2 linked regions of the Homo sapiens genome follow. The protein of the gene in region 1 purifies or fractionates together with the protein of each later gene. This does not show direct contact. Each region holds a gene or a part of one and is shown on either strand. Other genes may lie near its edges. The genes, in order: STAP2 and STAT5A.

Region 1 (3,809 bases):
GCCGCGTCACCCACTCGGGACCCCGGAGACCAAGTCCGCTCTTCTGCACGTAAACCCTGCCTCCTCTGAGACCCAGCCCCATCCCCATCCCCTAGGCCCAGGAGACCCTGCCCTGCTCTCCAGACCCAGGCCCCTCCCACGGAGACCCAGTCCGGCCTTCCAGGCTCCTAGTTTTTGTGGGGTTTTTTGTTTTTTTTTTGAGACAGGGTTTCGCTCTTGTTGCCCAGGCTGGAGTGCAATGGCGCTATCTCGGCTCACCGCAACCTCCGCCTCCCGGGTTCAAGCGATTCCCCTTCCTCACAGGCCCGGCTAATTTTTGTATTTTTAGTAGAGACGGGATTTCTCCATGTTGGTCAGGCTGGTCTCAAACTCCCTACCTCAGGTGATCCGCCCGCCTCGGCTTCCCAAGGTGCTGGGATTACAGGCGTGAGCCACTGCATCTGGCCGGGTTTTTTGGTTTTTTTTTTCTTTAGAGATGGGGTCTCGCTATGTTGCCCAGGATGGGTCTCGAACTGGGTAAAAGCAATCCTCCCGCCTCGACCTCCCAAAACGCTGAGATGACAGGCGCGAGCCACCGCGGCCAGCCAGGCTCTTAATTCTGGCCCCGGAGATGCAGCTCCAACCCCTAGGGAGACCCAGCCCTGCCTCGTAGGCACCTAGAGCCTCCCCTGGAGATCCTGTCCCGCCCTCCAAACACCTAGACCTTACCCTGGAGGCCCTGCCCGCCTCCCTGATCACCAAGAACCGCCCACAAAGACGATGCTCCGCCCCCCATCCAGGCCCCGCCTCTAGGGTCCCGGTTACCCTCTCCGACAAATAACTCCTCCCCGGAGACGAAGCATCACCTTCTAGACACCTAGACTGACCACCCCCAGACCCTGTCCCTACTCCTCAGGCCTAGGCCCCGCCACTGAAGACCTTACCAGTCCTCTAGGCCCCTAGACCCGCTCCTGGAGATCCTGCCCTGCCTCCCCAGCATGGGCCATAACTCCCCCTCCCCCTCCCCCACCCCCAGCCCCAAGGCAGTCCTCATGCAAAATCCAAGACCCAACTCCAGGGGACCCAACTCACCGCCCACCCTCAGCCACACAACCACCTCCCGTCCCCATCCTGCAGCCCCTCGGGACAGGCGGGACACTCACGAGGGTGTCTCCAGTGCACGGCGCGCCTCCTCTTTGGCCAAGACTTCAGACATCATGTATAGGTGCCCAGGAAGCAGGGTCAAGTCGGTCGGGACACGGAGCTGAGGGGCGATCGAGGGACAGTGACTGCACCTGGCCAGCCGGGAATGGACGGCTGTGCCCAAGTCACAGAGTGGCAAATTGAGGCCAGAGCTCAGAGCAATGAACTCTGACACCTTAGAGGGCAAAGAGGGCTTCGAGAGGGTTGCAGAGGAGTGTTGCATGAGAGTAGATGCTGGGGCCGGGCGCGGTGGCTCACGCCTGTAATCCCAGCACTTTGGGAGGCCGAGGCGGGCGGATCACCTAAGGTCAGGAGTTCGAGACCAACCTGGGCAACATGGCGAAACCCCGTTTGTACTAAAAATACAAAAAATTAGCCGGGCGTGGTGGCAGACACCTGTAATCCCAGCTACTCGGGAGGCTGGGGCAGGAGAATCACTTGAACCTGGGAAGGCGGAGGCTGCAGTAAGCCAAGATCACGCCATTGCACTCCAGCCTGGGTGACAGAGTGAGACTCCGTTCCCCGCTCCCCAACCCCACCAAAAAAAAAAAAAAAAGTAGATGCTGGAATCTAGGGTCTCAAACTAAAGTCTGCAGGGGCCAGGCAGGTCTCAAACTCAATGGCCTGCCAGGGTGAGGTAGGAAACAGGGAAATCAGAGGGAAATCAGGAAGGTAGACTAAAATTCCCGGTTGATAAATGATGTCAGCTAATTTTTTTTTTTTTTTTTTTTTTGAGATGGAGTTTAGTTCTGTCACCAAGCTGGAGTGCAGTGGCGCGATCTTGGCTCACTGCAACCTCCGACTCCCGGGTTCAAGCCATTCTCCTGCCTCAGCCTCCCGAGTAGCTGGAATTACAGGCTCCCGCCACCACGCCCAGCTGATTTTTGTATTTTTAGTAGAGACAGGGTTTCACCGTGTTGGCCAGGATGGTCTTGATCTCCTGACCTCATGATCTGCCAGCCTCGGCCTCCCAAAGTGCTGGGATTACAGGCGTGAGCCACCACGCCTGGCCAATGTCAGCTAATTTTTAAAAACTTAGCACTCTGTGGCCAGGCATGGTGGCTCACATCTATAATCCTATCACTTTGGGAGGCCAAGGAGGGTGGATTGCTTGAGCACGGAAGTTGGAGACCAGCCCGGGCAACATAGTGAGACCCTGCTCTACAAAAAAATTTTTAAATTAGTCAGATGTGGTAGTGTGTGTCTGTATCCCAGCTACTTGGGAGGCTGAGGCAGGAGGACTGCTTGAGCCTGGGAGTTGGAGGCTGCAGTGAGCTATGATCACACCACTGCACTCCAGCCTGGGCAACAGAGAGAGACCTTGTCTCAAAAAAATAAAATAAGAAATACGGTTGGTCGCTGTGGCTCACGCCTGTAATCCCAGCACTTTGAGTGGCCAAGGCGGGCAGATGACTCAAGGTCAGTTCAAGACCAGCCTGGCCAACAGGGTGAAACCCCATGTATACTAAAAATACAAAAATTAGCCAGGCGTGGTGGCGGACGCCTGTAATCCCAGCTACTCGGGAGGCTGAGTCACAAGAATTGCTTGAACCGGGGAGGCAGAGGTTGCAGTGAGCTGAGAACGTGCCATTGCACTCCAGCCTGGGCAACAGAGTGAGACTCTGTCTCAAAAAAATAAAACAAAATTTTGGCCGGGCCCGGTGGCTCACGCCTGTAATCCCAGCACTTTGGGAGGCTGAGGCGGGTGGATCACGAGTTCAGGAGACAGAGACCATCCTGGCTAACACAGTGAAACCCCGTCTCTACTAAAATACAAAAAAATTAGCCGGGCGTGGTGGCGGGCTTCTGTAATCCCAGCTACTCCGGAGGCTGAGGCACGAGAATGGCGTGAACCCGGGAGGCGGAGCTTGCAGTGAGCCGAGATCGCACCACTGCACTCCAGCCTGGGCGACAGAGCGAGACTCCGTCTCAAAAAAAGAAAAAAAGAAAGAAAGAAAAAGGAGGCTTTTTGAGGAGATCTGGAGAATGGGAGAGAGGGCGCAGAGAGCCACTACTCTTACCTCCACCACCGTTAAGATGAAGCCTTTCCACATTTCCCGACACTCCAAGGTCTCTACCTGGGGAACAAAAGAAAGGAAAGAATCCAAGTCAGTGAGCCTCAGTCTACTCATCAATGAAATTGGACTAGGGAAGAGTCCCTGCTTCAAAGGGCCGTTTTCTTTTTTCTTTTTCTTCTTTTTTTTTTTTTTTTTTTTTTTTTTGAGATGGAGTCTCATTCTTCTGTCGCCCAGGCTAGAGTACAGTGGCGCGATCTCAGCTCACTGCAACCTCCACCTCCCAGGTTCAAGCGATTCTCCTGCCTCAGCCTCCTGAGTAGCTGGGACTACAGGCATGCACCACCTCGCCCAGCTTTTTTTTTTTTCTCTTAGACATGAGGGTCTCGCTTTGTTGCCAGGCTGGTCTTGAACTCCTGGGCCCAAGCTATCCTTCTGCCTTGGCGTCCCAAAGTGCTCAGATTACAGGCATGAGCCACCATGCCTGGCTGATATTATGATTTTTGATGTTATTATATCAACATTTGAAAAACATAGATCAGGCTGGATGCAGTGGCTCACTCACGCCTGTAATCCCAGCACTTTGGGAGGTCGAGGCGGGAGGATCACTTG
Region 2 (3,809 bases), on another chromosome or scaffold:
GGAACAGGGCTGTGTGAACACACACCATCTCACTTAAGACCCCCTTGTGACTGAAGGAAGAGGGAAGAGGCCGAAACTCTCACAGGCATCCTGGAGACCCCGAAATGAAGTTAGAGGGGAGGCATCAACAAGCTCCCCTTGGATCCAGCCATTCCTTCAGCACATTCAGGAGAATCGCTTGAACCCAGGAGGGGGATGTTGCAGTGAGCCGAGATTGCGCCACTGCACTCTAGCCTTGGCAACACAGCGAGACTCCGTTTCAAAAAAAAAAAAAATAGAGAGAGAGGGGTAGAAACCAGGTCACAAAGGGAGGGAGCACATGGATGAAGAGGAACAAGTCCTCAGAGGCTTTCCAATGAACTGTTCTCAGAATAAAATCCAAACCCCTTCCCATGGTGTCTGCTGGCCATAGCCCTGCCTACCTCCAACCCCAGCTCGCTGGGAATGTGTGCTTTCTGTTTCTGTTCCTTGAACACACAGGCATGTTCCTGCCCTGGGGCCCTTGCACTTATTGTTCCAACAGTCTGGAACATTCTGGCATCAGATCCTCCTGAGGCAAAGCACTTTAACTGGTACCATTGCAGAGGGGTCATCTCTGACGAGCCAATTCACAGTAGTCCTATCTAAAAGTGTGTTGTTCTTGTATTTGCTTACATGTTTCTGTCTGTCTCCCTGCACAAGGATGTGAGGTTCCCAAGGGCTAGGACCTTGCCTTTCCTGTGAACTACAGAATCCCCAAGCCCTAGAATGCCAGGGGTGTTCAGGAACAGTTGTATGGTTGGAGGAAGGAATGAGCTCCCAGACCATGACAGCACCAGCACCATGGACATGGATTTGTCAATGAGGCTGAAGTCATTTTTAGGTTTGCAGATAGCTCTGTGATGGCAACAAGTCAGGGACACAGGGGCTGTGCTGGAAGACCCTTTGTGACCTGGTTTCTAACCCCTATTTTTTTTTTTTTTATACAGAGTCTCGCTCTGTTGCCCAGGCTGGAGTGAAGTGGTGCAATCTCAGCTCACTGCAACATCCCCCTCCTGGGTTCAAGCAATTCTCCTGCCTCAGCCGCCCGAGTAGCTAGGATTACAGGCGCCCGCCACCACGCCTAGCTAATTTTTGTATTTTTTAGTAGAGACTGGGTTTCACCATGTTGGCCAGGCTGGTCTCGAACTTCTGACGTCAGGTGATCCGCCCACCTTGGCCTCCCAAAGTGCTGGGATTACAGATGTGAGCCACCACGCCTGGCCCTCTCTATCTATTTTTATCCATGGCAACTCCCCACTTGGTTCCTTCTCCCCAGTTACACTGACCACTTACAAGTCTTCCAATGTGATAAGAAGATTCATGCCCTCCTGCTCTCGCAGCTGCTGTCTTTTCATTAGAAAATTCATCCCTCCTCTCCTGCCTTTCTCCACTGTAGCTCAGACATGCCTGTCCACAGGACGCTCCCCTGCCAGCCTGCCCCAATCTGAGTTGGGTGCTTTTTCCACCTAGGCCCCCTTAGCACTCAGCTCATCTCTAGAGAATCCATCACTGCCAGAATTCCTTCCAGGCAAGAACCAGGCCTTTATGTGTTTCTCTGATGATAGCCCAGCATCGGACACACAGTAAGACCTCAATAAATGTCTACTGAGTAAATCCTGAAATCCATGTCCACAACAATAAATACGTAATAGGCCGGGCGTGGTGGCTCATGCCTGTAATCCCAGCACTTCGGGAGGCCGAGGCAGGTGGATCACTTGAAGTCAGGAATTCGAGACCAGCCTGGCCAACAGGGTGAAACCCTGTCTCTACTAAAAATACAAAAATTAGCCGGGCATGGTGGTGGGCCCCTGTAATCCTAGCTACTTGGGAGGCTGAGGCATGAGAATCTCTTGAACCCAAGGGGTGGAGGTTGCAGTGAGCCGAGATCACGCCACTGCACTCCAGCCTAGATGATAGAGTGAGACTCAGTCTCAAAAATAAATAAACAAACAAACAAATAAAGAAAGAAATAATAAATATGACCTGTGCTCCGGTCACTGTTCTAAGATTTCTGTCACGTCATGTTGTGAAATTCATTTTGCTCTATTGCAGATAGTACAGCACTGTGCCATTGTCCATGTAGATGCCCAGTGCCTTTATTATTTCAGAACTGGGGAGATGTGTCCCTGTTACCCCTCCCTGGGCCTCACTTCTCTGAGCCTGCCTGTGTTAGTTCTTCTGACACAGATAGGTATGATTGCTATCTCCATTTTACAAGAGTAGGAACAGGCCGGGCACGGTGGCTCACGCCTGTAATCCCAACACTTTGGGAGGCCGAGGCGGGTGGATCATGAGGTCAGGAGTTCAAGACCAGCCTGGCCAACATAGTGAAACCACGTCTCTACTAAAAATACAAAAAAAATTAGCCGGGCATGGTGGTGGGCACCTGTAATCCCAGCTACTCGGGAGGCTGAGGCAAGAGAATTGCTTGAACCTGGGAGGCAGAGGTTGCAGTGAGCAGAGATCACATCACTGCACTCCAGCCTGGGCAACAGAGCAAGACTGCATCTCGGGGGGGAAAAAACAGTAGGCGCCAAGCGTGGTGGCTCACGCCTGTAACCCCAGTACTTTGGGAGGCCGAGGTGGGCGGATCACGAGGTCAGGTTGAGACCATCCTGGCTAACACAGTGAAACCCCATCTCTGCTAAAAATACAAAAAATTAACCGGGCATGGTGGTGGGCGCCTGTAGCCCCAGCTACTCGGGAGGCTGAGGCAGGAGAATGGTGTGAACCTGGAAGGCAGAGCTTGCAGTGAGCCGAGATCACGCCACTGCACTGCAGCCTGGGTGACAGAGCAAGAATCCGTCTCAAAAAAAAGAAAAAAGAAAAAAGAAAAAAAAACAGGAACAGAGGCTCAGAGAGATTAAGCAACTTGCTCAAGTCACACAGCTAGTAAGTGGTAGAGCCAGGGACTGGATCCAGGGGGTCACTCCACCCCGGCGTGCAATGCTGCCACCTCTTACACTTGCCCACGTCCCTCATCTTCTTGGTGCTCTCCTCGTGCTGCTGTTTTATATAAACACAGTTGTTTCTGGAGAGAAAGGCATATGGAGGGACTTCTCAACACTCCTCCCCATCCCCAAGGGACACTCACATTGTTGGCTTCTCGGACCAGCCTCTGTTCATTGTACAGAATGTGCCGGATGCAGCGGACCAGCTCCAGGGGGCAGCGGTCATATGTTTTCTGAAAGAATCCAACAGTAGCCTCCAGCGCCATCCTCTGCTCCAGCCATGCCAGCCCCATGCTATGCCCAGCCCTTCCTCTCCTTCAGCCTCTGCCTCAGCTTTTCCCAGGGAGCCTCAGGAACTATCCCCAGACACCTCTATATCTCTGTTCCTCATCCTCATCTTCCCCTCCAAGATCTTCATATCTGGTTTGGAGCGAATTAAAAACCCACAGTTTATGAGGCACTTTCTCTTTTTTTTTTTTTTCTTTTTGAGATGGAGTTTTGCTCTTGTTGCCTAGGCTAAAGGTGCAATGGTGTGATCTCAGCTCACTGCAACCTCCACCTCCCGGGTTCAAGCGATTCTCCTTCCTCAGCCTCCTGAGTAGTTGGGATTACAGGCATGTGCCATCACGCTCGGCTAATTTTGTATTTTTAGTAGAGGCGGGGTTTCTCCACGTTGGTCAGGCTGGTCTCGAACTCCCGACCTCAGGTGATCCACCCGCCTCGGCCTCCCAAAGTGCTGTGATTACAGGTGTGAGCCATCATACCCAGTCTTATGAAGCACTTCCAATCTACCGTATCTTTTGACTGTAACACAGGGGTCCCAAACCCCTGGGCCAT

Evidence for each region.
Region 2: the proteins of STAP2 (region 1) and STAT5A purify together in Homo sapiens (co-immunoprecipitation; one study listed by IntAct). This does not show direct contact.

What each region holds. Positions count from the first base shown.
Region 1 is NC_000019.10:4,328,819-4,332,627, forward strand, and holds part of STAP2 (signal-transducing adaptor protein 2), read right to left. Parts: intron 3,261-3,809; coding exon 3,204-3,260; intron 1,244-3,203; coding exon 1,143-1,243; intron 1-1,142. UniProt on the Homo sapiens protein: Substrate of protein kinase PTK6. May play a regulatory role in the acute-phase response in systemic inflammation and may modulate STAT3 activity.
Region 2 is NC_000017.11:42,291,368-42,295,176, reverse strand, and holds part of STAT5A (signal transducer and activator of transcription 5A), read right to left. Parts: intron 3,206-3,809; coding exon 3,116-3,205; intron 1-3,115. UniProt on the Homo sapiens protein: Carries out a dual function: signal transduction and activation of transcription. Mediates cellular responses to the cytokine KITLG/SCF and other growth factors. Mediates cellular responses to ERBB4.